4 linked regions of the Homo sapiens genome follow. The protein of the gene in region 2 interacts with the protein of the main gene of each other region in a biochemical or structural test. Each region holds a gene or a part of one and is shown on either strand. Other genes may lie near its edges.

Region 1 (7,095 bases), on a different chromosome or scaffold from region 2:
CTGGCATACAGCACGTGCTCAATACTTATATGTTATCCCTACTTTGATTCAAATGCTAACTCCTCTGAAAAGCCTTTTTGGCAACTTTTCTCTGCAATAGCGCCTCTAGCCTGATCCTCAATTTTCTCAGCCTCAGACCCTTTTTCCTTTCTCTCCTTGGCTCATAGAAGACTCTATTCGCCGTGGAATGTCATCCTACAACGGCAAGCACTGGTCTTCCTTAACTCTGCTCCCAGCATCTGTCCTGGAGCTATCTCTGGGGTTCCTTGTGGGCAGATGGACCATTACCTCGATAGTGGATGCCTTCAGGAGGGCGATCTGGTCCTCCCGGCCCAGCTGCAGGAAACCAGGCACTTGCTTAGCGAAGTCCACGATCTCCTGGACTGAGATGATGGCCAGCTCCGTGAAGTGGGCAAAGCGTTGCTGGCGGGCATCTCGGGACTGGGGGTCTGCGCCCAGGGGCCAGGGCTGGGACACAGGAGACCAGGGTCACTCCCAGGTCTTTGTGAGCCTAAGTCTGGGTGGCCACCTTGAGGCCAAGCCTGCACCCTGGGGGATCCTCTTCCCAAAGCCCCTGCCCTCTGGAGCCTCATTCTCCCACACCCTGGGTGATGGCCCAGCTGGCTCTACCCCATTGGGACCGTCACACTCAAGGTTGTGGAGGGGGCAGTACCGTGACTTTGGGCTGGTCGGAGAAGGAGCGTTTGTTGCACTGCAGTTGGGCCGCCACCAACTGCTGGATCATTAGTTCTTGAGCCGCTGTTAGCTGGACACCCTCGCCTTCCCCGGAGCCCTGGCTGCCTGCCTCAGATCCACCAGGGGAAGCCCCAGGCCCAGAGGCTGAGCTGCTGCTGCCCTGCGGCCCCACAGGTGACTGCGACTGTGACTGTGACTCCTGCTGCTGTTTCCGAATCTTCTTCTTCCGGATCTGTTCTTCAGAAAGGACGCCTGTAGGGGGATGCAGGCCTCAGCAGAACCCCAGGGCTAGGCGGGGGGCCAGGCCGGCACCGCCCCCTCCCGCTGCACTCACACTGCTCCCTCATCCCTGCCTCCTTGCACTTGCGCAGCCGGCACTGCTGGCACTTGCGCCGCATGAAAGCGTCCATCTGGCAGGTTCCGCCACCCCGGCAGGCATAGCGCCTGGCCCCACCACGGACCACACTGCGCCGGAAGAAGCCCTTGCAGCCTTCGCAGCTGAGCACGTTGTAGTGGAAGCCGGAGGCCTTGTCCCCACAGACACGGCAAAGCTCGTGGCCCAGCATCTTCGGGGCTGGGCCCTTCTTTCGCTTGCGCTCTGGTTCCTCTTCGGGATCTGGGATGACTGGGGTGGGTAGGTAGAGGCCATGAGAAAGCCACAAGGAGAAACAGGAACCAGAGAGATGGGCCCACAGGAGATCCCCAGGCAAAGAGCCAGAGGATGGAGGGAGAGAGGAGTTGCTGCTCACATTCAGGGAAATTGCAATTTAGAAAGATGTATATGTTAAGGAGAAAGCAAGAACAAAAAGCAAAGATCAGGGCCTCCCATTCCCATTTCTATTTCTTTCTCCCTTCCTAAACCCCTCCCCAAGCCCCCACATCAACTCCAGGGCCCTGTCTCACCCCAGTCTGTGCTGCAGGCTGAGCTGGCCTCATCAGTGCCTGGGACATCAGGGTCCGGACCCCCGGGCCACGGCTCCGGACCCTCCTCCTTTACAGTGGGTGAAGAAGAAGGGGCGCCAGGCTGAGGGGGGCCATTTCCTGGAAGAGGGTGGAATCCGGGAGAGGTACAGTGAGCTTCTGCTCGTGTGTGATAAGGGCTGGGTGGGGAAGAGAGTCACTCACCAGGCAGGGGGGTATCCAGGGAACTCGTGGTAGGAGAGGACATGGTGGGGTCACGGAGCAGCCTGTAGAATACAGGGGATTGAGAGCCTTGTGGGGCTAAGAAGGGTTAGGTTAGGTCAGTTACAGGTCCTGACAGGGCTTTCCCTTTTTTTTCCATCTCTCCAAAGACCCTACTCTCAGCCACAACCCTGGTTCCTGCCAGCCTACAAACCCTCCCCATCCTTCTAACAAGACCTGCCCCCTTCTGTTCCACGCCAGCCTTCAGCTTGGTCTTAAGCCCCGCCCCTGCTGTAGGCCCCGCCCCCTCAGGTCCAATCCACCTGCTTTTTCTAGGTAGGGCCCATTCTCCTTTAATCATGCTCTGCCTTCACGGCCTCCATGCCATGTAGTTTCCCCCCACCTCCTCTTCTTAAGACTCTACCTCACTTCTGCCCCAAGCATCCCTATTTCTCATTCTGACCCCACCTCCTCCTACTATGCTCCGCCCTCAACCTTCCAGGTTCAGCCCCTAAAGCCCCCATCATGGGCCTCCCAACACCTTGCCCCGCCCCATATGCATCCCTCCCTCCAAGCCTCACCCCCACAACCTCGCTCCAGGTCCCCATCCCCTCCCATCATGCCCCGCCCCCGCCCCGCCTCCTCCCTTCCTACTGCACCCCCACAACCTCGCTCCAGGCCCCGCCACATCTCCTCCCATCATGCCCCGCCCCCAGCCCCGCCTCCTCCCTTCATGCCCCGCCCCCGCACCGCGCTGCAGGTCCCGCCCCATCACCTCCCATCATGCCCCGCCCCGCCTCCTCCATTCATGCTCCGCCCTCGCACCTCTCTCCAGGTCCCGCCCCTCTCCAAGCAACAGCGGGGGGCGGGGCTCATGGCTGCGCGCGGGGGTCTCGTGGACGGCCTCTCGCGGAGTGAACTACTCCTGTTGCCCTGGAAACAGCCGCGGGAGGCGCGAATTACCGAGGGGAGGAAATGGAAGGAGAGAAGGGGGCAGAGCGGAGTACGCGGGGAGCGCCGAGAAGCCCCGGGTTCGGGGCTCCTCCTGCGTCTCCCCACTCTCGGGTGCACCTACCTGGGTTCCCTTGCTCTGCTTTTCTTCGTCCTCCTCTTTAGCCCCTGACACACCGCCGCTACTCAAATACCCTCAAAAGTAACTTCGCCACTTCTTCCGGCAACCCCGCCCTTGCGTCACGTCCGGAAGAGGGGCGGAGCGTGAAACTTGACGAACTTCCGGTCCGCTTAGGACCAGCCGAAGCTGCTGCCCCGCACGGAAGTTGGAAACTCACCGGAAGTTTACCGGGTAGATCTACTGGGACTTGGCAGAAGAGTTCCGAACCCATTTCCTCGCTTCTTGGGAGCCAAACCTCCAGCCCCGCGCTTTGTGGCTTTAGCTCATTCATGCGCTTCTCTGAGCCTGCGGCCAAACCCTAGCTATAGCTGCTTGTCGCACATGACTGATTTAAGGCACGTTTGCACTTTTTTGGTCGTTACAAGTTTTCTGATTTTGGAGTCGTGCTGCTTGTTAGTTTTATTTATTTTTATTTATTTATTTGGAGAGGTCTCACTCTGTCACCCCAGACTGGAGTGCAGTGGTGTGATCTCAGCTCACTCCAGCCTCTGCGTCCTGGGTTCAAGAGATTCTCTTGCCTCACCCTCCCAAGTAACTGGGATTACAGGCATGTGCCACCACGCCCGGCTCATTTTTTTGTATTTTTAGTAGAGACAGGGTTTCGCCATGTTGGCGAGGCTGGTCTCGAACTCCTGACTTCAAATGATCCGCCTGCCTCGGCCTCCCAAAGTGCTGGGATTACAGGCGTGAGCTGCGGCACCGGGCTTATTTTTACTTTTTTTTTTTTGAGATGGAGTCTCACTCTGTTGCCCAGGCTGGAGTGCAGTGCCGCGATCTCAGCTAACTGCAACTTCCGCCTCCTGGGTTCAAGCGATTCTCCTGCCTCAGCCTCCCTTGTAGCTGGGATTACAGGTGCCCACCACCACGGCCGGCTAATTTTTCTATTTTTAGTAGAGATGGGGTTTCACCATGTTTGCCAGGCTGGTATCGAACTCCTGACCTCAGGCAATCCACCTACCTCGGCCTTCCAGAGTGTTGGGATTACAGGCGTGAGCCGCTGTGCCTGGCCAGATTTGAGATGTCAGAATTTTCTCATTGTTAAAATTTTGCAAAAATGGTTTCAATAACTTGGTGATTGGAAGAATTAAAAAAGCTCAGTCTCGGACCGGGCGCGGTGGCTCACGCCTGTAATCCCAGCACTTTGGGAGGCCGAGGTGGGCAGATCACCTGAGGTCGGGAGTTTGAGATCAGCCTGACCAACATGGAGAAACTCCGTCTCTACTAAAAATACAAAATTAGCCAGGCATGGTGGCGGGCGCCTGTAATCCCAGCTACTCGGGAGAGGCTGAGGCAGGAGAATCGCTTGAACCCAGGAGGCGGAGGTTGCGGTGAGCCGAGGTTGCGGTGAGCCGAGATTGCGCCATTGCACTCCAGTCTGGGTAACAAGAGCGAAACTCCGTCTCAAAAATAAAATGCAATAAAAATAAAGGAATAAAAGAATGGCTACTCCAGGTAGAGCAGCGGCTTGGGCTGTTCACTGTGATTATACTTATAGTTATTTCTTGATTATATACTAAACAACGGGTGGATTATTCATGAGTTTTCCAGGAAAAGGGTAGGCAATTCTCAGAATTGAGGGTTCCTCCCCCGTTTAGACCATATAGGGGAACTTCCTGACGTTGCCATGGCATTTGTAAGCTGTCATCGTGCTGGTGGGTGTGACTTTTAGCATGCTAATGCGTTATAATTAGTGTATAATGAGCCATGAGGACGGCTAGAGGTCACTCTCATCGCCATCTTGGTTTTGCTGGGATCTGGCTGACTTCTTTACTGCATATGCTGTTTTATCAGCAAGCTCTTTGTGACCCGTATCTTGTGCCAACCTCCTATCCTATCTCATCCTGTGACTAAGAATGCCTTAACCTCCTGGGAACGCAGCCCAGTAGGTCTCAGCCTTATTTTACCAAGCTCCTATTCAAGACAGAATCGCTGTGGTTGGAATGCCTCTGACATATGTGTATGCCTTTATAAAAAAGAAATGGGACTATGTGATCCATGCTCTTCTGTAACTTATTATGTCTACTCAGGCCCATCGTTTGAGATTGTGGAATTTTCCACCTAGGGATGTTAGAAGCGAAACAAGTGATTAACATGAGCGTTGGAAATGGCAGAACCTGGTGTCTCTGTCACTTCCTTCCTGTGTAACACTGAGCCCAGTTCCTTAACCTCCCCGTGCCTCAGTTTCCTTGCCTGTAAATTGCAAACAGGAGTGAGAAAGCCGGGCATGGTGGCTCATGCCTGTAATCCCAGCACTTTGGGAGGCCAAGGCAGGTGGATCACCTGAGATCAGGAGTTCGAGACTAGCCTGACCAACTTGCTGAAACCTGGTCTCTACTAAAAATATAAAATTAGCCGGGCATGGTGGCGGGCACCTGTAATCCCAGCTACTCAGGAGGCTGAGGCAGGAGAATTGAACCCGGGAGACAGAGGTTGTGGTGAGCCAAGATCTTGCCATTGCATTCCACCCTGGGCAGCAGGAGCAAAACTGCATCTCAAAAATAAAAAAATAAAGGCAGGGCACGGTGGCTCACGCCTGTAATCCCAGCACTTTGGGAGGCCAAGGCAGGTGGATCACAAGGTCAGGAGTTCAAGACCAGCCTGACCAACACCATGAAACCCCATCTCTACTAAAAAAAATACAAAAAAAATAGCCAGGCGTGGTGGTACGTGCCTGTAATCCCAGCTACTTGGGAGGCTGAGACAGAAGAATCACTTGAACCCAGGAGGCGGAGGTTGCAGTGAGCCGAGAACGCGCCACTGCACTCCAGCCTGGCAACAGAGTAAGACTCCGTCTCAAAATAAATAAATAAATAAACAAATAAATAAAAATAAAAAAATTAAAAAGAGTGAGACAGGAGGCTAGGCACAGTGGTTCATGCCAGTAATCCCAGCATTTTGGAAGGCTGAGGCAGGCAGATCACGATGTCAGGAGATGGAGACCATCCTGGCCAACATGGTGAAACCCCATCTCAACTAAAAATACAAAAATTAGCTGGGCGTGGTGGCACGTGCCTGTAATCCCAACTACTTGGGAGGCTGAGGCAGGAGAATCTCTTGAACCAAGGAGTCAGAGGTTGCAGTGAGCCGAGATCGCGCCACTGCACTCCAGCCTACCGACAGACTGAAACTCTATCTCAAAAAAAAAAAAAAAAAAAAAAAGCGAGACAGGAATAACACAGGGTAGTCACAGGAGAATAGAAAATTCCAGGCAGCAGTTTCACATGACTAGCAAAAGGAAACTGTTGAAATAGTTGCAGCAGGTGGGGGCTGATAAGACTCTTGAAAACCCTAGGTGTGGACCAACCTGGCTAAGACACATTGGACCCAACAAGGCCCTACATATGACCTAGGTCTCACCTAGGACCTCGTTATATGCTCATTAACATAAACACACACCCACCAGCACCAGGACGGTTACAGGAACACCCATATTTGGTGTAAAAGTGGGTGGCACCACAGTTCTCAAAAATCTCCTTTTTCTAGGAATCTTCATGAATATTCCACTCCTTGATTAAAGAAATCCATAGTACATACCTGTAGTCCCAGCTACTCAGGAGACTGAGGCAGGAGAATCGCTGGAACCCGTGAGGCGGAGGTTGCAGTGAGCCAAGATCGTGCCACTGCACTCCAGCCTGGGGACAGAGCAAGACTGTCTCAAAACAAAAAGAGAGAAACCCATTAAGGTAGCAGCCCCAAACCCCCCCTGCAGGAGACTCTCTCTGGAGTCCACCTGTACTCCTCTTTGTTGAGTGTGTACTTTTCACTTTGCAATACATCTTTGTACTTTCAGTATTTTCCCACTTGTCCTCAAGTTCCTTCCCGAGATGGTGTCAAGAGCCTGGACATTGGCTGGGGTGGAGGTCCCACACCAGCATATGGGGACTTCCCCTAGCCCACCGGGATCAAGAGTATGACCTTGTTGCCTTACTCTTATGACTAAATGAGGTAAAAGCATAAACAGGGTGGGTTTCAAATGAGGTGCCTGATATGGTGGAACTGTATTTATATTTATTTATTTATTTATTTATTTTTTTAAGATAAGATCTCACTCTGTCGCCCAGGCTGGAGTGCAGTGGTGCCATCTTGGCTTATTGCAGCCCTGACCTCCTGGGCTCAGGTGATCCTCCCACCTCAGCCTCCAGAGT
Region 2 (7,679 bases):
TCAGAATCACCTGAAGTGCTCACTGAGAAAAGCATATTCACTGGTTTCACCCTCACTCCAGACTCTGATTCAGTCCTGGAATCAGCAAGAAACATGCATTTTTTAAAAGTTCCCCAGGGAGTTCTGATCAGTTTGTGTGGGCACAACGCTAAGTCTGGTTCCTCTGCTTTCATTTTGCTGTACAGGGCCCTGCTGGGTGAGTGGGAGTGGGATGCAGAGGGAGGGGACACTCACTCCCACCCAGGATACTCCCCATCTACTACAGAAGGGACAGCCAAGGGTAAACACCAAAGCTGGGACGTGGTGACACTGTGGAGCGAGGCTGTCTGCATCTGCAGAACCCATCTATGGTCTAATCCTGGGAATGTGATGGAGTAAAATTGGGACTGTCCAATTTTTAACTGGACCCAGTGTGAGATCAAGTACAGGAGGATGCTGAGTCCCGACCAGTCCAAACTCAGAGCTGACTCTGTACGATTTACCCTGAAATCTGACTGTAGCACAGACAGACTCCTGGGGCCTGGCAGGATCCTTTCACTTCTAAGCAAAACTTTGTGAAAGATCTCCTGCTGACAGAAGCATCACTATTGTTGGCCAGAAATTACAGACGTTAAACTAATTTCAAACGTTAGCTAAACACTATGAAATACTTAATAATAACAGTTAACCTTCTCTGAGTACTAATTATGTGCTAAGTACTGAACTTGAATGGTTTATCTGATTTAATCATCACAACAGTCCAACGGGGGAAAGTGAGGCTCAGAGATGTTCAGTTTCTTGTCCATAGTCACTGAGCGTGTCTTAATAAACTTAAATTGCTGATAATAAATCATTCCTTGGTCATTGTTATTCCTCCAGTTGTTTGGGGTTAGATGAGTCCCTCAAAGGAAGAAAAAGACATGGGTCTCGGTGGACGTGTACAAATTGCCCACTACTGTTGTTATTAACGGGTGCCCTACTCAGATTTGTTTAAATGAAGACAGCGTTTTTGTTTGTTTTTAATTTTTTTTGAGACAGGGTCTTGCTCAGTCGCCCAGGCTGGAGTGCAGTGGTGCAATCATAGCTCACTGTAGCCTTGAACTCCTGGGCTCAAGTGATCCTCCCACCTCAGCCTCCCAAGTCCCAAGGGACTACAGGGGTGCAGCACCATGCCCAGTTTTATTTTTAGTAGAGATAGGGTCTCACTATGTTGACCCAGGCAACAAAGGTGGTGTTGCTGCCCAGAAATCATCTGTTTGCCATAGGCTTAGTCAAAGTCTGAGCCTCAGGTGGGGAGAGCCAGAGTAGTGGTATGCCCGAAAGGTGCTTATCAATGTTTTTCTCCCTAGCACACCTGAAGGATTGATAAAACCTACTCCCATCAACGGCAGTGGCTCAGCACAGCAGTGATCTTCACAGGGCTGGAGAAGCGCCATATCAAGCACAACCTTCTGGACTCACTCTGCACTTCAGTAGGCCTTACCCCAACAGCAGAGGAGCAGACCCAGCTGTTCATATTGGGTTGCCCTTACGATTCATCCATGTGATTTATTAGCCCTTCACAGCGGGGTGATGCAGTGGAACATCCAGGTGATGCCTGGATTTTCAGGTCTCAGGCAGACCATGGAGGCAGCACAGTGTAGCACAGAGGTTAGGGTGTGGGCTCTGGAGCATGGAGACCTGGGTTCAAATCCTGCCTTTGCCACTTAGAGGTATGAAATTTGAGACGTTACTTAAACTTTCTGAGGCTTAGGCTTCCCATCATATGTAAAGTGGGAATAATAATAGTGTTATCTCATAGGTAAAATGTAGTACAATTATTTAGCAGAGTATAAGTAGTACACAGTAAGCACTGAAATGTTATCAAGACCCCAACCATGCCATTCACCCCACCATCCAAGGAGTTTTGGACAAGTCCCATATTCATGTCTGTTTCCTTTTCTGTAGGAAGGGGATAGTAACCCCTCTTCCACTAGGTTGCGGCCAGGATTACATGAGAAAAAATATATATATCTAAGTGTCTACATAGTTAGTACTCAATCAATGGTAGCTATTTCTAACAAACCAATGAAATGGGGGGACAGGTGAGAGGACAGGTATTAGGACAGACCCTGACTCAGCCAGAAGCTGGCCATACATAGAGAGAGTGAGAGCAACTGTCCATTATGCCCCTGTCCTTGGAGAAGGAAAGAGGAGCTGGGGCAGCCAGCCCAGCCATGGGTTTCACAGCACTGGCCTCCATGGAAAAATCTGGGGTCCCAGCCTGGGGGGAGACTGGGATCCCCTTTGGCCTGGATCCTGAAGGAAGGTCGTGGCAAGGAGGTGACTGACCATGCGCGCCTAGGGTGAGACTCCTAGGTTGGAGTGATAGTGTCAGATTCCTCAAGCAACAGCTGGAAGGACTGATCTGGGAAAGGTGAGCTCTGCTGGGAGGCTCAACAGCTGTGGAAGTAGGCATTCACTCCAGGTCCACCCAGCGGCCTGGAGGACGTGTGATCCCTTCTATGTGAGTAGAGCAAGACAGGAATCCCACTGCCCATTTTATGAAGAGGGTAGGAGAACAGAGAAGTGAAGTCACTGACCCCAGGTCACCCGACTAGAACCAAGTTTCTGATTTCCAGTCCAGTCTCGTCCATTCCCCTCCAAGTCTCAGGTAGGGTCATGGGAGCTGTGCGTGGTCAGCCAGGAGCAGCTTGCCTTTCTAATGAGCTGGGACTGAGCCTCCCGCGACCACTCTGCGGTGACTCTGGGGTCCGCCCGAAGGAAGGGCCCACTGAAGCGGGGGTCAGGCCGCCCGCCACCCGGTCCCGTCCGCGGACCTCGACTCACCTCTGGGCCCGCTCTGCGGGTGGCGGGGCGCTAGCCTTCGGCGGACCGGGGCCACCTCCCCTCCACCGCGCGGCCGCAGTTGCACCGCCAGCGCTGGACGGCGGGCTGGGGTCCGGGCGCGGCCCCGGACCGGGCTGGAGCCGGGGAGGGGCTCGCTCGGCGCAGCTGGCGCGGCAGCCTCCCGGGACTGGGATGGGGGCTGGAGCAAAAATGTTTCTTATTCCAGCGTCTTCCTGCCTGGCCCAGCTCCACCACTCCCTCCTAATAAACCGTTTCCTTATTGCCCAGCTCGCCGACTGGCCGCCGCTCGCCCCTCGCTGGGGCTGCAGGACCGGGACCCACCCCCGCGCCGCTCCCAGCCCCTCAGGGCGGCCTCCCCTCCCAGCCGCCCGCAGCTCCCGGGTCGCTGGCCCGCACCCGGGCCGGGCCTCCCACATCCGCCTCCCCGAGGGGGCGGGCCTTGGACTCAGGCCGTGGGGGTCCTGTGGGGGTCCCATAGGGGTCCCGTGGGGTCCGGACCCACAGCCGTGGGAGACAGAGCCGAGACTGTAGGCAACGTCTGGCGGCCGGAGTAGTGGGTGGGGGTAGAGGGGGATCGGCTGGCAGCAGCGGAGGGGCCGCCTGGAATCGGGGCGCCGGGAAGGGGCCACCGAGGAAGGGACAGGCGGGGGTGGGACGGGGAGGGACACTACCTATCCTTACCCCACCCTCAGCCCGGGGGTCCTCGGTCTAGGAGGCTTGCAGCAATGAGGGCAGAGTTTGGGGCTAGCAAAATCCAGATGCGTTTTGACTCCGCCCTCGGGAACTCCCGACTTGGCCCAAATCCTTCAGTCCCCTCCCTCGGGCCCCTTCGTCCCCCATTTGTCCCCTCCTGTCTTCAGCAGCCTCTCCCGATCCGCACTCAGCACAGGGGTATACAGGCCCAGAGGACGGCCTTGGGTTAGCCCTGAGGATGGTTTGAGCCCTTCCTGGCCGTTGTGCAGCTGGGTGACAAAGACACCCCCGCCCCGCCAGGGACAGTCAGGATGGAGGGACACGCTGGGAGCAGCCTTGGACCTTCCCCTTCCAGGCAGGGCCCCCACCCCAGCAAATGGAGCTTTAGATAGAGGTGGGGAATGGAGCCTCCCTGGAACTCTGCTGACACAAGGCAGCTGGGGAGGGAAGCAGAATGGCTTCATACCGGCAGGGGAGGGGGACACAGACTCTTCCTGATGCTCCTGCACAGGCTGGGAGCACTGACCTCACTGCCCTGCTTTGCTCCAACCATCTAAGTACCTGCAGGACTCTGGTCTTAGTCCTAGCCTCCTGGTTATCCACAGAGACTCTGAAGTCAAACTACCTACTAGGAATGCAGGCTGGTTGTGTTACCGTAGGCTAGTGACACCTCTCCATGCTTCAGTCCCCCATCTGCTAAATAGGCATAGTAAACCGTGCCAGCCTCATAGGGTGGTTGTGAGAATAGACGGAAATGATGCTTATCTCAGCTCATAGCAAAGATGCTGGCTGGCTGAGCCTGACTCAGAGGAGGCCCTCAATGAAGGCGTTCGTTAATTAAATGAATAAATGAAAAGGCTGGGGAGGGGGTGGCCTCAGAGACACTTGGAAAGACGTGGGTATTAGAAGCAGGAGTAGACCTCTAAGGTGTCTTACTCTAATATGGGGATTCTACAAGATGAGCCAGGGACCCCTCCTCCTGCCCCGCCCCACCTTTTGACAGGAATAGAGGCTGGGGGAGATAATGGCTAAAAGCTCAGACAGGCATCAATTATTGACTGACCTCACTTCCTCTGCTGAAACCCTCCCCATCCCCCACCCCACAGCTGCTTCACAAGTTGTGAGCGTTGTGAATTCCCAGAACCCTGACACACCCAAATTTCAGTGTCAGGACAGAACTGTGTCCTGCAGCCAATAGGAAGTACTATGGGATTACGATATCTGCTCTTTCAGATTATAGCGGCCACTTGGGCCCTCTACGAGCTGGAGAACTGGGAGCCTGGCCGCGGGTCTGTCTTTCACACTCTCTCTCCCTGCTCCGCTATGGCTTCTGGTCAACCTTTTCCTCCCCCAACCCCTGGATCTCTGTCCTGAGAAGCGAGAGTCGGGGCTTCCCAAAGGAAGCCTTTAGTCTGAGAGGCACACTGAGCACAGAAACTTCGAGATGGACAAAAGCTGAGAGTCACTTCTAACAGTCAGTGGGGGATGGAAGACTATCTGGACCAGCGTTCGTGAAACAGATAAAAATAGAGTACATTTTGGGAGCTGGAAGAGAGGACCCAGGGGGGGCTGGAGTCTGTTCATCAGTGCTGGAATCTTCCCCATCTCCCCAGAGCACTGAGCCCTCTGGCCCCTGACTGGTGCTCTTTGGGGCTCTTGTGAACCCCATGCCTTCCAAAGCACACAGAGAACCTGGGGGAGGTGTCAGAGTTGGAGATCCAGAGTTGGAGAAAGCCCTGGAGAGTCATCCCAATGAGAAAAGGGAAAAGGAATTACAGACTGTGTCCAAGTCTACAAGAATTAATTACTCAGAGGGACCAGCTGTTCCCCATATTCAGTGAGGACAGAACAAGAGGAAACAGGCCCAAAGGACAAAGATTTAGATTTAGATACTCAGAAGGATTTCCCAACACTGCAGGAAGCAGAGGCCTGGAGATTCTGTGTGGGGTGAAACCTCAAGCAGATTCTCATCTGTGGAAGGTGGGTGACATGGAGTCTGTCAGGAAGGCAGGGCAATGGACACCTTCACCTTTCAGGACCAGCTATGAGTATTAAGTTCAAGCATCATTCTTTTTTTTTTGAGATGGAGTCTCACAGTGTCGCCCAGGCTGGAGTGCAGTTGCGTGATCTCAGGTCTGCCTCCCAGGTTCAAGTGATTCTCCTGTCTCAGTCTCCCAAGTAGCTGGGATTACAGATGCGTGCCTCCACGCCTGGCTAATGTTTGTATTTTTAGTAGAGACGGGGTTTCACCATGTTGTACAGGCTGGTCTCGAACTCCTGACCTCAGCTGATCCACCCACTCAGCCTCCCAAAGTGCTGAGATTACAGGCATAAGCCACCCCACCCAGACTCAAACATCACTCTTGATACTAGTGCGGGGCTGGCTTCATGGGAGTGTGACCTGTGCAGATGCACAGGGCCCCATGCTTGGTTTAATGCGCTGTCATTGCCATCTTAAAATTCTTAATGATATATTTTTTTTCCATTTATTTAGGTCTCTTTTATTTATCAGTGTTCTTGTAGTTTTCAGCATTTAACTCCTTTATGTGTTTTGTTACACTTATACTTTTTAAAAGCAATTATAAACAGGATATGCTATTTTTAATTTTTGTGTCCATTTGTTCATTAAATTATATAGAAATATAATCGATTTTTACATATTGATCTTGTATACTGTGACCTTGCTGAACTCACTTATTCAAGGGGGTGAGGTATTTGGGTTTTCTACCCCTCATGGATTCTTTGGGATTTTCTACATCGACAGTCATCTGCATCTGCAAATAGAGACAGTATTATTTCTTACCTTCCAATATGCATATCTTTTATTTCCTTTTCTTACCTGACTGCACTAGCTAAAACTTCTAGCATTATGTTGAATAAGAGTGGTCAAAACAGAACAGCCATCCTTGCCTTGTTTCTCTTAGGAGAACACACTCAATCTATTAATCATAATGTTAGCCGTAAGTTTCTTGTAGTAGCCACTCTATATCAGATTGAGAAAGTTCCCCCATTCCTCTTTTGTGTGTGTGTGTGTATTCTTATCATGGATGGCTATTGAATTTTGTCAAATGCCTTTTCTGCATCCACTGATACGAATTGTGTAATTTCTCTTTGTTAGTCTGTTAATACGGTAGATTATGTTGACTGATTTTCTCTTCTTTCTTTTTCTTTTTTTTTTTTTTTGAAACAGAGTTTTGCTCTTGTTGCCCAGGCTGGAGTACAATGGCGTGATCTCGGCTCACTGCAATATCTGCCTCCTGGGTTCAAGCGATTCTCCTGCCTCAGCCTCCCTAGTAGCTAGGATTACAGGTGCCTGTCACCACACCTGGCTAATTTTGTATTTTTAGTAGAGAAGGGGTTTCTCCATGTTGGTCAGTCTGGTCTTGAACTCCCGACCTCAGGTGATCCACCCGCCTCGGCCTCCCAAAGTGCTGGGATTAGAGGCGTGAGCCACCGTGCCCAGCCTATGTTGACTGATTTTCTAATAGTGAACCAGGCCTTACATCCCTGGAATAAACCCACTTGGTTATAATGTGTACTTCTTCATTATATATAGCTCAATTTTATTTGCTAATATAGTAATTTGCTGCATAATGAAGTTTCAGTCAAAAATATTCCACACATACAATGATGGTCGCATAAGATTATAAATGGAGCCAAAAAATTCCTGTTGCCTACTGACGTCGTAGTAACGCATCGCATTACTCATGTGTTTGTGCTGATGCTGGTATAAACAAACCCACTGCGCTGCTAGCCATAGAAACGTATACAGCATGTACAGCTATGTTCAATAAACAATACTTGATGATAAATGACAATGCTACTGGTTTATGTATTTAATATCCTATACTTTTTATTATTATATTTTAGAGTGTGCATCTTCTATTTTTTAAAAAAGTTAACTTTAAAGCAGCCTCAAGCAAGTCCTTCAGGAAGTATTCCAGAAGGCATTGTTATTACAGGAGACAGCAGTTCCACACATTACTGCCCCTGAAGACCTACCAGTGGGACAGGATGTGGAGGTGGAAGACAGTGATAATGATGATCCTGACCCTGTGTAAGCCTAGGCTAATGTGTGTGTTTAATAAAAAAAAAAAATTAAGTACAAAAATGAAATTAAAAGTTTTAAACATAGAAAAAAACTTATAGAAGCCGGG
Region 3 (7,024 bases), on a different chromosome or scaffold from region 2:
AATACTGCAATTCAGGTAGGAGAGAAAGGGGCCTATTTCAATATGCTCTAGGAAGCACTGGTGTCTTCAAGGTTCATCATCTACGCCAGGTGACTGAGAAACTGTGTATAACTGATAGCCCCTCACACTGCAATAAGGAAACTCCTGGACGAAAACCATGTTATGGAGGGAAGCAGGGTGCCTGCCTCTTATAACTCTACTTTGTATATATCTTGTACCTCCTTGACACTCCAGATTCTCCTAGGAGGCTGGGAAATTCGGGCTTCCTTTCCTTAAATGAGAAAAGCCCAGTCTTCCCAGACTGATACTTCCTAGTATACAAAGAATAACAAAATACAGGAAAAAGGAAGACATCATCCCCATTTCAATCAAGTCTGATCCAGGACATAACCAAAACATTGTGTGTTCATTAGTAGTTTGTACTTCTTTTTTCCTTTTTCTTGAGACAGTCTCACTCTGTTGCCCAGACTGGAGTGCAGTGACACAATCATAGCTCACTGCAGCCTTGAACTGCTGGGTTTAAGTGATCCTTTTGCCTCAGCCTCCAGAGTAGCTGGGATTACAGGCGCAGAATCTTCCCGTCAGCAGTTGGCATTTCATTTGTTTGTGAAATGCTTGTTCACGTCCACTACCAATTTTTCTATTGGGGTGGTGCTTCCTATTGATATAAGTCTTTCTTGTAAAGAACAATATCTTGTTGCAAATCTCTTTATCTGTCTTTCAGGTTTTGTTTTTGAGTATGTTTGGTCACATAATAAATGCTATCAAATCTATAAAAAGTTTCCTTTATTGTTTCTGCCTTTGGAGCCACATTTTGAAGGGCTCTGTGGCTGGCTATTAATAACCCTCCCCCCAGTGGCATAAATCAAACTCCCCTTTCCTTCTAACACTATGACAAGAATCCACTGCAGAATCTTTCTGCATTAAGCACATATTGGTTTAATGAAAAAGAAATGTTTTTAACCGTAATGAATGCTGTAATAAAAGCCACAGAAAAATTCAGAATACAATACTTATTTTTTTAAGTTCTAATTAACTTAACCTTTAAAATCATTACAGGGATTCTTCTGTTAGTTCAATTTCTATACTTTTCTTAGAAACCTTTATCTAGAATTGTTAGGGAAATGCTCTATCTACAAATTCCCAAACTTGATATTTCACTACTTCATTACCAAGATTCTCATTGCTTACTGCTTCTCAATTCATTTAGTTCATCAGGCTTCTTATAAAACAAGTAAGTGTTGGGGCTTGGTCTTACACCCAGGCAATCTGACTCTAGAGTCTTATCTCTGAACCCATTTGCTATCCCTAAGCCTACCAGGCCACAAAGTGATACCAAAAAGTAACAATTAACCTAGTCTCCTATACAGCAGCCTCACCACACTTCACCCCAGGTTTCCCCCCAATTGTTTAGAATTTGACTTCTCTATAGATTGCCTGGCACACTACCTACGGTGGTTCTTCTTCCCTTACCATGTGCTGATCTTCCTCCTCACCATCCCAGTGAAAGGACTTACCTCCAACAATACAGGAAAATCAGCAAAAGTGCACAGGAGCTCTGCCACATGCTTTCTTCTCACTCGGACCCCATTCTGTTTCTTTCTCAGACAACTCTCCCTCCTTACCACGGTCAACATTTGTCACTTGTGCTCCAGATGGCTAACTCCATCACCTCCAATTGCTCTCTGTCCACTGACTTCTTCCCCTCAACCTTCAAATATGAAGAGGTCTCATCTATCTTAAAATTCAAGTCACTTAAGGCAATATAAGACTCTCTCACTTCTTAATGTATTCAGCCTTCTCTGAAATTGCATTCACATGATTATCTGACTTCTTCTCCTTCACCCTGAACTGTACATTTTCCCCTCCAAACCTACTTCTAGAATCTCTCTTCCAGTGGCTTCCTGGTTTTCCCACTCCTCTGACCCCATGCCTTTCTTCCAGTTTCTTCTTTGGTCTATGTCAAACAGCCTCTCAGGCAGTCTACTTCAAATTAGCCTCTTCCTTCTATTAATTCCTAACCGTGGGCTCCAATGGAAGATTCAATCCACCAGTTCTTTCTCTCTTTGTGGTTGTCTCAGAATACCCAGCAGATGACTGCAGAGAGTCTAACGTAAAGCTTTCAAGTCCTCCCAAACCTTATCTCCAACCTGCCTGTAGCATACTTTGACTTAGATATCGCACCTTAAATTTAACACATCAAGTCTAATTTATCATTTGCACAATTTTTATTTCTTCTACAACCAGCTCTTCCCTATTCTTAAGTAACATCTTTATTAGTTTTCCAGCCACCAAGTTTAGAAACTTAAGGATATATCTCCGACATCTCTTTCTCATTACTTTATAGCCACATAATCACCAAGCCTTCATGGTTTTTTGTTTTATTTTATTTATTTATTTATTTTTAAATCCTTCTCTTTCCATGTCTACCTTTACCAGAGATTTATCATCTCACACATAACTCAATAGCTTTCTTACTGATCTCCTGGCACTGGGCTCTATCCCTCCAGTGCAAACTGCATGTTCAAACACTTTCAGTGACTTCCCAATGTTTCCTTATTCTGGCACTCTAAGGCCCTAAAATTCTCACTGGAAGTCAACCTTTCTGAGCATCTCCTCCACACCACCATACTAGGCTCCATGAGGAACACCCACTGAGGTCAGGCAGGGCTGCTCACTGCCTCTGGATCTGTGCTATTTGATATGATAACCACATGTGGCTACTGAAACATAAATTAATTTTTTAAAAAATGCTGTTCCATGTGTGGCTACAGCTACTGTATTAGCACAGATGTGGAACATTTCCATCACTGCAGAAATTCTATTGGACAGTGCTGCTCTACAGATACTCAACACTCATGCTTATCTCCCAGTTTTTCATGCCATTACTCTGTCTATAATGTCCCTCTTCCTTCTGCCTATGCAAACTCACATGTCCTTCCAGGCCACAGTGGTCCTGATGTGAGTTGTCTGTACAATTTACTCCTATACTACCTTGTAACGGCTCTTATAATGTTGCTGCATTTAATTTTTCATGTTTGTGTATACTCTAATTATTAAGCCTCAGAACTAATAAATATTCAGGGAATAAATGAAGCATATACTTATTACAATACTGCAGCAAAATGATCAAATAAGGGCCCATTTAATATCCCTCCTTCATTAAAAAGATACGTTTCTTTTCCATCTAAACAAACAAAAGATCTTGCATTTAGTTAACTGAATAATGGCTTAATTAATGCCTAATTATAACCGTTGAGAGAGTCTCCCCCCCACCTTTTTTCTTGAAGTGTTTGAAACTAAAAGAAAAAAAAGCTATAAAGGTCTGGAATACTTCTACTTTGCATAAGCACACCACAAAGAAACCACACACACACACACACACACACACACAAAAAGACAGGGAGAGGATAATACATGAATAGTTGGAGTAACTATACCCTAACAATCTCAGATTGTAGAGCAAAATATCCACAGTACAGCAGCCCTACAATTAAGGGGAAACTACAAATAAAGCATTAAAACTTATGTATAAAAATATATTCTGAATCAACAGAGAGACCCCTCTCTCCTCCTCTTCCCAAACAGGACCTAGTGAATATTCATTTACATCCTGAACTCAAAAGCATATACATGCATAATTAACAATTGTATGTTCTTTCTTCAGATCCAGGCTTATTGTCTCAAAAAAAATATTTGTTAAGAAACCAATCTATACTGCAAACCTAGGTTCTTATTAAAAAAAAAAAAGTTCCTTTTTCAAACACTAAGAACATAAAAGAGATTTGGGAAAATCACCAGGTAAGGACTTCCTCACACCTTAGAGAATTTAATGCTTTATTTTCAAGAGAGAGTCTTCTCTAAAGTTCAGATTTTAGCTTATAACAAAAATTATAAAGATGCTGAACTGTTCAAATACTGTAGTTCCCAGTACCTTACTAAAACTCTGATGTAGTCACTGGAGTGAAACTGCTTATGAAACTTTTGGCTTTTCTTTTCTGAAAGATAGTTTCCTTTATGCAAATGAATGTTCTAGAGAAGCCGCTCATTTCTGCAAGTCAGCCCGCAATAGCTACAGACATTACTGTTTTGCATATAGGACTAGCCCTGCACCTCTAAAACTGACACCATCTTAATAACGCAGAGCAAGATGAGTATTTTAATTTAGATTTTAAGCAATTACATTAATACTATTTGGCTCTGCCTTTTTCTTCTCTTTCCTTTTCTTTTTAAAGGTGGCTACAGCAGAGTGATGAAAATACTTCAGGTATTTTTGCTGCAAATCAGATGCCAGATCAACAGATTAGACTGAATATTTGTACTACCAGATAACAGCAGGAAAGGAAAATAAAGGGTCAAGAGGTTTCAGATTGGGGCAAAGAGGACATGCCCCTATTTGTTATCAAAGTATGTCCTAAAATCTTGGTACCAAAGAGTAAAACCACATATAGAAGTAGCAGAACATTTCATCAACCTCAAAGACATGCTATGACTTAAAACCGATTTTTTCCACTTTTTTATATTTAAATTATCCTTTTTCTCCTCAGACCTGTCCAATTCTCTCCCTAGGACTCCCTAGCTCCCTAAATACCCCAAACTTTAGCTTTTGGTTAGGAATGTGATTTGTTTTCGAGAGTCAAGAGGAGATTCGTATATTTTGCTAGATGTCAGAGTTGCCTGCTTTAATTTGAACTTTGTGCAATCTTGGATCTCCCATTTTCTAATAAGGTCTCATTGATTAAATTAGATATAGGGCTTTTCTTTTCCATCTCCAGAATGAAAAAGAATCAATTTTAATATGTAGAAAATAAGCATTTCTCTCTGGTTGTCAGATTTGATTCCTACTTAGCTCAAACAATGTTAGGTATAAAAAGTTGCTAACAGGCCAAAAAATTCTTTCCTCCCTTCCCTAAATTACACTGGATATGCTTACACCAAAGCCTCAGAAATATCGTGAGCGTGGTAGGGAGAAAAAAAACCTGAAAACAAAAGGGCACTTAATGCCAAGAGGAGTCCAGATCTTGGCTTTCCCTTTTCCAATCACTAGACAGGTAACTTTGGATGTCAGTTACCTTCTCTGGACTTCAGACTGTTCACCTTGATATGAACCAACCAGATTAGAAAATCTTTAAAGCAACTTTTAATACTAAGTATCTCTATTCTCTGTAAAGGAAATTACAAATCTTAATGTTTATGAAAGCACTTGGCAGTCCCATGGACATATTTCACCCGAAAGACCATGAGATTTGGATAGTTAAGTGTACACATTAACTCACCATGACATATAAGCATTTTGGGATAGGAAGGTGGGAATAAGAAGATACAAGATCCATAGTTTCATCGATTCTTAAACAGCCCTGACCTTGTAAAACATTTACAAAAATAGATGTTGAATGTTTTTTTAAAAATCCCCAATGAATTTGCAATTACTATTCTTACAGTGTTTAACAGCTCAGGGAAGATAGACTAATTTTGGTAAGACAGACAAACTGAATTACTACAACTTTCCTCCTAACTTAATATCAGTTTGTGATTATGTAAGAAAATGCAAGAGGAAAGTGACAAGAATTATGCAGAAAAGCAGAGATAAAACTAATTTGGCTTTGAAATGCATTATTTTCATGCCAGATTTATTCTTCAAATTATGTGCTGCTTAGATGAGCATTATTTTTCCTTTCTTAAACACTTACAAAAGAACGACAGAAGATAGCCCAGAAAGGCACAATAGAAGGTAAATTTATTTAAAGACCTACAAAATACACAAGCCAAGTCATGTCTATACTGGCATAGTAAAGCACAGCAGAACAATGATGATTTGGGTCTTCTGAACGAAAGACCAAAAAACATAGTTAAGATGGAGTTTCTAGAGTTGGACTGCCTCGATCATATCCCAGGTAAGATTAGAAATCATAATCATTCACTGTACCTCCTGAAGCAAGATACTGAATCATTCTGTCCTCAGTTTCTTTACCTGTAAAATGTGACAACAATAGTACTTATGGAAGTTTTGAGGCTTAAATGAGATATGGGTATTATAAACAATGCCTGGCATACATACAGTAAAAATTCAGAAAAAAGGGTTAGCTACAATTATTTCTTCTCTCTAAGGCTCTAAACCAAATTAGAATCGATGACACTAATAATAAATAAGATCTACAGAAAAGTCAAACTCCTTTTATCCAGCAGCTTCAACTGTCCCTTCCAAATTGTGTTTTATTTTAAAAAGAACAGCTAGTTAGTGATAAAATTAGTTTATATATGTCTTTCCATCTTTGACTCCACAAATCATTAGTAGAGTTAACAAGTGAGAAGAGGTAAAGGTCCTGGGGCAGCAATGGCTAGCAGAACCTCCTGTGATGATGGAACTATTCTATATACACGCTGTCCAGTATGGCAGCCACTAACCACAAGCAGCTACTAAGCACTTGAAATGCGGCTACTGCTGAGAAAACGAATTTTTATTTAATTTTAATTTAAACTTAAATAGCTATAAGTAGCCGAGTGCAGTGGCTCACACCTGTAACCCCAACACTTTGGGAGGCCGAGGCGGGAGAACAGCTTGAGCCCAGGAGTTCAAGACCAGCCTGGGCAACATGACGAAACCCTGTCTCTACAAGAAATACAAAAACAAATTAGTCAGGCAGACATGGTGGCAGTGCCTGTAGTCCCAGCAACTTGGGAGGCTGAAGTGGGAGGACTGCCTGGGCCTGGGAGGTCGAGGCTGCAGTGAGCCATGATCGTGCCACTGCACTCCAGCCTGGGTAACACAGAGAGACCCTGTCTCAAAAAAATAGAATAATAAAATTTCAAAAAAAGCTACGTGTGACTATGGCTAGGATAGCAGAGCCCTAGATAATCCATAAGCTAAATAAGGATTGTCAGAAACTTAAGCAAAATAAGGATCTTCTTTTCCTGAACTGTTTATATGTTCAATTCAAATATCTTTGTTTCTGGTATAGGCCTGGTAAGTTTGACTAGTTAAAGAAATAACATGTCAGTAGATATCAATACAGTGAAAATTCAG
Region 4 (7,024 bases), on a different chromosome or scaffold from region 2:
GGTGAAATGCTGTCTCTACTAAAAACACAAAAATTAGTTGGCAGTGGTGGCGCACACCTGTAGTCCCAGCTACTCAGGAGGCTGAGGCAGGAGTCACCTGAACCCGGGAGGTGGATGTTGCAGTGACCCGAGATCGTGCCACTGCACTCCAGCCTGACAACAGAGTGAGACACCATCTCAAAACAAAAACAGAAACAAAAAGACTAGCAAAAAAAAAAAAAACAAAAAAAAACATTAACCCACAGAAAAATTCTAATTCTATACAAGAGTAAATAACTATCTTTCAAAGTTTAAAATACAGAGCGACAAGCTTTTCTAGGATAGAATCATGTATCTAACCAAACTGGACATATCCAGTTATACCTTATAAAGTTGAACTAAATACAATATGTATACATACATTTGCACACACCAGAATTTCTAGATTCTTTTTCTTTTTTTTTTTTTTTTTTGAGATGGAGTCTTGCTCTATCACCCAGGCTGGCGTGCAGTGGTGCAGTCTTGGCTCACTGCAACCTCCGCCTCCCAGGTTCAAGTGATTCTCCTGTCTCAGCCTCCCGAGTAGCTGGGACTACAGGCACGTGCCACCACACCCAGCTAATTTTTGTATTTTTAGTAGAGATGGGGTTTCACCATGTTGGCCAGGCTGGTCTCCAACTCCTGACCTCAAGTGCTCCACCTGCCACAGCCTCCCCAAGTGCTGGGATTACAGGCGTGAGCCACCATGCCCGGCCAGAATTTCTAGCTTCTGAGGCCATACTGCACAATTAGGTAGCCATTACCTACATGTGGTTAATTATTAATATTAAATAAAGTTTAAAATTTATTTCCTTGGTTGCACAAGCCACAATATCCAAATGCTCAATTACCATGTACAGCCAGTGGCTACTGTATTGGACAGTAAAAAATACCCTTTCCATTATCTCAGAAAGTTCTCCTGGACAGACTTTTTCTAGTAGAATCCTCAAAAAATTGTAATTGGGCAATTTGGAAAGGGGAATGAGGTGGTTGGGGAAGATAGGCAGGAGATAGGTTTTCCACATTAGACAGAACTTAGCCTGTGCCAGATAATGTCCTTAATATGACTCATGCTAATTCAATCCTTGTTGTACTTCAGTATAAATTGGTTTCCTTTGTAAACCTATGCATTTTATGTAATACATGTTAAAACATTCTTTTTTCTTTTTTTTTTTTGAGACGGAGTTTCACTCTTGTTGCCCAGGCTGGATGCAATGGCACCATCTCGGCTCACTGCAACCTCCACCTCCCAGGTTCAAGCAATTCTCTTGCCTCAGCCTTAGCTGGGACTACAGGCACCCATGAACACGCTCGGCTAATTTTTGTATTTTTAGTAAAGATAAGGTTTCACCATTTTGGCCAGGCTGGTCTCGAACTCCTGATCTCAGGTGATTCGCCCATCTCAGCCTCCCAAAGTGCTGGGATTACAAGCATGAACCACTGTGCCTGGCCTGCATTTTAAAACACTCTAAGATAGGGGCTATAGGCTTTACCAAATTGCTATTTTGGACCATGAGTATGTAACTAAGTCAAAGAAAAAAAACAAAAAATAAAGAAAAGCTAAATACCATGATGTATAAACCAACATCCAAAACAGATTTTACAATCCACAACATGGTAACAAAGTATACAAGTTCAAATGAAAAAAATTTAACCCTCCTAATCCCACCATCCATAAACCATCTGGCATATTCTTTCAGTTAGAATTTTACACTTATTTGTGTACCTACGCATCAGTATCAACCCTAACATACAAGTTTTACTGAAGGATGGACTTTAGTTTTGGTTGAATTTGTTCCTCTTTTTACACAAGATAGTAATAAAGCTTGACACTCAGGTTTGAGTTCTCTCTCACTTATGTTAATTATGAGTTCTATAAAAATAACTTGCCTTGCTAAAAATTAAAAAAAAATTTTATATTCAAGTGCTATTCCTTTTGCGGCACCAAAACTTTGTATGTAACACTTAAGGAACTATGTGACCGTGGTAGAAAGTTAAAAATCACTTGAAATATGAATTCCTCACCTATAAAGTATTCATTTATTCATCAGAAAAAGAACTATAAGAAAAAATATACATTTCACATATCAATTAAAATATCAAACTTTCTTGCCTTAGTTAATACTTCTGACCAGATTTTGTGCCAACATAGGCTTACTGCCCCATAAGAAGTTTCACGGCAATACTAATATGTTGACATATATATGTAGACATATATATCAAAATTAGTTACAATATTTTTTTCTGTGCTCTGCTCATTACAATGACAGTAATGGAGTGCAATGTCATCATCTCGGCTCACTGCAACCTCCACCTCCCAGGTTGAAGCAATTCTCTTGCTTCAGTCTCCCAAGTAGCTAGGACTACAGGCACCCGTGACCACGCTTGGCTAATTTTTGTATTTTTAGTAGAGATTACAATGACAGTAATGAGCAGAGCACAGAAAAAAATATTACAACTAATTTCTGTATAGCATTTTGTAGTAACAAGCTTAAAATACACCAAGAAACACGTATGTGTACATTTTAGCTTAAACTTTTTCAAAACAACTGTTTTACCCTTTGCCAGACTTATCACCAAAATTACTAAAAGTACTAAGGTAGTTAAGTCTAGAATAAATCCAAAATTCACAAACTTTTAAAAATGTACTAAAACTTTTTTCACTAGCAAAATATTTTAACTGGGAAATCATACGAACTAGCAAATGCCAGAAATCAAATTAGAAAGGGGGAGAAGGTTAAGTGTCCATCCACTTTCTTTAGAAATCCACAAAGTTCTCAATTAGTTACTAAAACACGATTGGTGTAATTGCTTGGTTTAGTCCTCAAGATTATATATTTTTGTTATCTAACATTGTAATATAACAGGGCCTAAAAATAAATGCCCACACGTTTTATTTTATAGCTGTAGCAAAACACATAGTAAGCTTATCAAAACACATCTCCCCTTCTGAAGTCACCCAAGCAAAGCACATTACATGCCTACTTGAAAGAGTGCAACGGTTAAGAATATACACTCTGCACTTTGGCTGCTTTAATTTAAACTCCACCCCACCACTTAATAGCTGTGTGATTTTGGAGCAAGTTAGTCACACAATGTTACTTCATCTGTACTGTTAAGAATTAAATGAGTTAGCCTGGCGCGGTGGCTCACGCCTGTAATCCCAGCACTTTGGGAGGCTGAGGTGGGCGGATCACGAGGTCAGGAGTTCGAGACCAGCCTGGCCAATATGGTGAAACCCCATCTCTACTATAAATACAAAAATTAGCCGGGCGTGGTGGCACGTGCCTGTAGTCCCAGCTACTCAGGAGGCTGAAGCAGGAGAATCACTTGAACCCAGGAGGCGGAGGTTGCAGTGAGCCGAGATCGCGCCACTGTACTCTAGCTGGGACAACAGTGAGACGCTGTCTCAAAAAAAAAAAAAAAAGAAATAAATGAGTTAATATATGTAAAGCATTCAGTGTGGTACTTAACATAGAATAAGTGCTATGTGTAGCAATTACAAATAACGATCTTTCTACATTAAAAATAGCTGTTACAAACAAGGTATGTTTATAAGGTTTTTTTAGTTAGTTGCTTACAACTATAAATCCATATCCTTAATTCCATATCCCTATAAATCCAATGCTGGTTAGATTTGTAATGATTCCACAAAAATTTACTGAATATAGTGTGACTAAACTTCATTTTCCTGTTTTTTCTTTTTTCTTTTTTTTTTTTTTTGAGAAGGAGTTTCAGTCTTGTTGCCCAGGCTGGAGTGCGATGGCAGACATAGGCTCACCGCAACCTCCACCTCCCAGGTTCAAACGATTCTTCTGCCTCAGCCTCCCAAGAAGCTGGGGTTACAGGCATGTGCCACCATACCCAGCTAATTTTGTAATTTTGTTAAGTAGAGACAGGGTTTCTCCATGCTGGTCAGGCTGGTCTCGAACTCCCGACCTCAGGTGATCCGCCCACCTCAGCCTCCCAAAGTGTCGGGATTACAGGCGTGAGCCACCACGCCCGGCCCATTTTCCTACTGTTTCTATGGAATAATGTATCAAAAGTTCCAACTGGGGAAACAAAAAAAAAAAAACCCCTTATATTTCTGACCACATTCTCAGGTTCCAGAAGTGCCCAGAAATGACTATTAGTATTTTAGACACACACACACACACGCAAAATCATTTTCTTTTTCTTTTTTTTTTTGGTGAGATAGGGTCTCTTTCTGTCACCCAGGCTGGAATGCAGTGGTGTGATCACAGCTCACTGCAGCTCTGACCTCCCAGGCTCAGGGGATCCTCCCATTTCAGCCTCCTGAGGCTAGGACACAGGTGTGCACCACCATATTCAGCTAATTTTTTAATTTTTTGGAGAGACAGGGTCTCGCCATGTTGGCCAGGCTGGTCTCAAACTCCGGGCTCAAGTGATCCTCCTGCCTTTGTCTCCCAAAGCCTCGGATTACATGTGTGGGCCACCAAGCCCAGCCCCTTTCTTTTTCTGGAGACATGATTAGGGACTTTTGAAGGAACACTAGTGATTTTTATGGTAGGGATAGGAGTGGGAAGAACATCTTAGGATTGTGAATCACAGGCTTTGCATTTCTTGCTAATGGCTAAGGATTGATAATTAAAAAGCAGCAATGTGAATTTCCAAGAAAAGAGGGAAAATAGTATGTAAATGCATGGATATACATGAGTATAAAACATTCATGGAATGTCAACTTTAGTCCCTTACAGTTGACAAACTGTCACCTTTGAATACTGCATTTAAAAATTGAAATCACCGTAATATATCTTATTCCGACTTTCAGCTGACTTAGAAATTTCAGTCTTCAAGATCACTCAGATATTAAGATGAGACTATAACCCATGCTCATTTCCACTTCTCAAAAAAGTCTCTATGACTAAGATGGTGCAACTCACCGGTACTAATAGATTAAGGAAACTTCTTTTGTTTATTTTTTTTTTTTTTGAGACGGAGTCTCGCTCTGTCACCCAGGTTGGAGTGCAGTGGCACAATCTCAGCTCACTACAACCTCCGCCTCCCAGGTTCAAGAGCTTCTCCTGCCTCAGCCTCCTGAGTACCTTGGGATTACAAGCACGCATCACCACGCCCAGCTAAGTTTTGTATTTTTAGTAGAGGTGGGGTTTCACCATGTTGATCAGGCTGGTCTCAAACTACTGACCTGGTGATCTACCCACCTCGGCCTCCCAAAGTGCTGGGATTACAGGCATGAGCCACCGCACCCGGCCCATATTCTTAACTTTATGTAAATTAAACAATATTTTACTTAAATGTTTTTTGCCTACAGTTTTCTGTCCAAACTAGAGTAAGCTTACATAATTCATTTTGCATATTATCCCTCTGCAACTTCTGTGTATAAACTGTGTGTCTACATTGAATTTCTCTAAGTCTAATAATCATGCTCATTAACTCAGATTATAAAATGAAGTGTGAAATTTGTTTCTGTTTTTTTTTTTATTCTTTTTGATGGAGTCTTGCTCTGTCGCCCAGGCTGAAGTACAGTGGTACCATCTCGGTTCACTGCAACCTCCACCTCCAGGTTCAAGCGATTCTCCTGCCTTGGCCTCCCCAGTAGCTGGGATTACAGGCGCCTGCCACCAGGCCTGGCTAATTTTTGTATTTTTAGTAGAGACAGGGTTTCACCATTTTGGCCAGGCTGGTCTCGAACACCTGACCTCAAGTGATCCCCACCCGCCTCGGCCTCCCAAAGTGCTGAGATTACAGGCGTGAGCCACCGCACTCAGCAAGTATATTTTTTTCTTTTAATTGAAGAAATCTGGAATATGAACCCCAGAGCCAAATTTACGTGGATTATCGAGGAACTCTGATATAGTGGGTTCTTTCATTAAGCAAAAAGTCCACTAATTTGCATAGTCTGGTTGGCATTCAATTGTTCATTAATATGAATTATATAGTACAACAAATATTTGTCAATATGTATATAAACCTTATTTACTCTTATTAATAAGCTGTGTAGTACAGAGCATGTTTCCAAAGTATAAAAAAGGAAGCATTAAATTAGCTGATTGTCCAAGTTGATTCACTTATGAAATTAGCGTGGTTTCAAAAAATTCAAGAGCTACAATGTAAAAACAAGTAAAATTATACACTTTCAGTTAAGCTAAAGAAATCAAAATTAATCTCTTACCTCAAAAGGAACTACAAGTCAAAAAAAAATTTTTTTAATTCTAATAATGAACGATGTAGAATGAAGATAAAGCTACAAAGAAACACGACCTACTGGAGGTAAGATGGCCTTGCCATTTTCACAGACTAATATTAAACCTAATTTTGACCCAGCCACAATTCAAATGCCGATAGAATAACATCAGAGTACCGTTTGCCCTAACGTTCAAATTTTTGCCAAATTATCCGTTAAGAGGTAAAATGTTTCCCTTAATTTTCCCTTTCAAGCTTCTCAACAAATTTAATATTTGTGGGCCACATCTTCATGTAACTCAACTCATACAAAGAGAAAACCACACAATAATATCAAACTGAAAATGATATTTTATGTAATGTCCATAGACAAAAATCATCCAGATACCTATGCATGATGGGATAAGCAGGAAAAGCCCATGGCTCTTTTTAAGTGTTTATGATTATGCACAGCAGAAAACCATTATGGAAGCTCACAAACTAGCTGAAGTAAGAAAAAACATGATTTTTGCAGCCTTCAGCAGGGGTATCTCAAGTACAATCCAATTCTAATCAGTTGCTTCAAAAAAAAATCCAGGCGAGGCTCGGTGGCTCACGCCTGTAACCCAACATATTGAGAGGCCAAGGTGGGAGGACCACTTGAGTCCAGGAGTTTGAGACCAGCCTGGGTAACCATCGCGAGATTCCATCTCTACAAAAAGTTTAAAAATTATCCGGGCGTGGTGGCCTGCTCCTGTAGTGCTTGCTACACCAGAGGCTGAGATGGAAGCATCTCTTGAGCCCAGGAGTTTGAGGCTGCAGTGAGCTATGATCGCGCCACTGCACTCCAGCCCCAGCAACA

Evidence for each region.
Region 1: the proteins of ACVRL1 (region 2) and NR1H2 form a complex in vitro, tested with the Homo sapiens proteins (one study listed by BioGRID).
Region 3: of the proteins of ACVRL1 (region 2) and SMAD1, one has a biochemical effect on the other in vitro, tested with the Homo sapiens proteins (2 studies listed by BioGRID).
Region 4: the proteins of ACVRL1 (region 2) and EIF4E form a complex in vitro, tested with the Homo sapiens proteins (one study listed by BioGRID).

Annotation. Positions count from the first base shown.
Region 1 is NC_000019.10:50,372,375-50,379,469, reverse strand, and holds the start of NR1H2 (oxysterols receptor LXR-beta), read right to left. Parts: upstream 3,014-7,095; 5' UTR 2,894-3,013; intron 2,752-2,893; 5' UTR 2,644-2,751; intron 1,884-2,643; 5' UTR 1,865-1,883; coding exon 1,822-1,864; intron 1,738-1,821; coding exon 1,600-1,737; intron 1,322-1,599; coding exon 1,031-1,321; intron 949-1,030; coding exon 674-948; intron 469-673; coding exon 289-468; intron 1-288. UniProt on the Homo sapiens protein: Nuclear receptor that exhibits a ligand-dependent transcriptional activation activity. Binds preferentially to double-stranded oligonucleotide direct repeats having the consensus half-site sequence 5'-AGGTCA-3' and 4-nt spacing (DR-4).
Region 2 is NC_000012.12:51,902,825-51,910,503, reverse strand, and holds the start of ACVRL1 (activin receptor type-1-like isoform 1 precursor), read right to left. Parts: upstream 3,001-7,679; 5' UTR 2,809-3,000; intron 1-2,808. UniProt on the Homo sapiens protein: Type I receptor for TGF-beta family ligands BMP9/GDF2 and BMP10 and important regulator of normal blood vessel development. On ligand binding, forms a receptor complex consisting of two type II and two type I transmembrane serine/threonine kinases.
Region 3 is NC_000004.12:145,484,847-145,491,870, reverse strand, and holds part of SMAD1 (mothers against decapentaplegic homolog 1), read right to left. Parts: intron 1,595-7,024; exon of another isoform or gene 1-1,594. UniProt on the Homo sapiens protein: Transcriptional modulator that plays a role in various cellular processes, including embryonic development, cell differentiation, and tissue homeostasis.
Region 4 is NC_000004.12:98,919,125-98,926,148, forward strand, and holds part of EIF4E (eukaryotic translation initiation factor 4E), read right to left. Parts: intron 1-7,024. UniProt on the Homo sapiens protein: Acts in the cytoplasm to initiate and regulate protein synthesis and is required in the nucleus for export of a subset of mRNAs from the nucleus to the cytoplasm which promotes processes such as RNA capping, processing and splicing.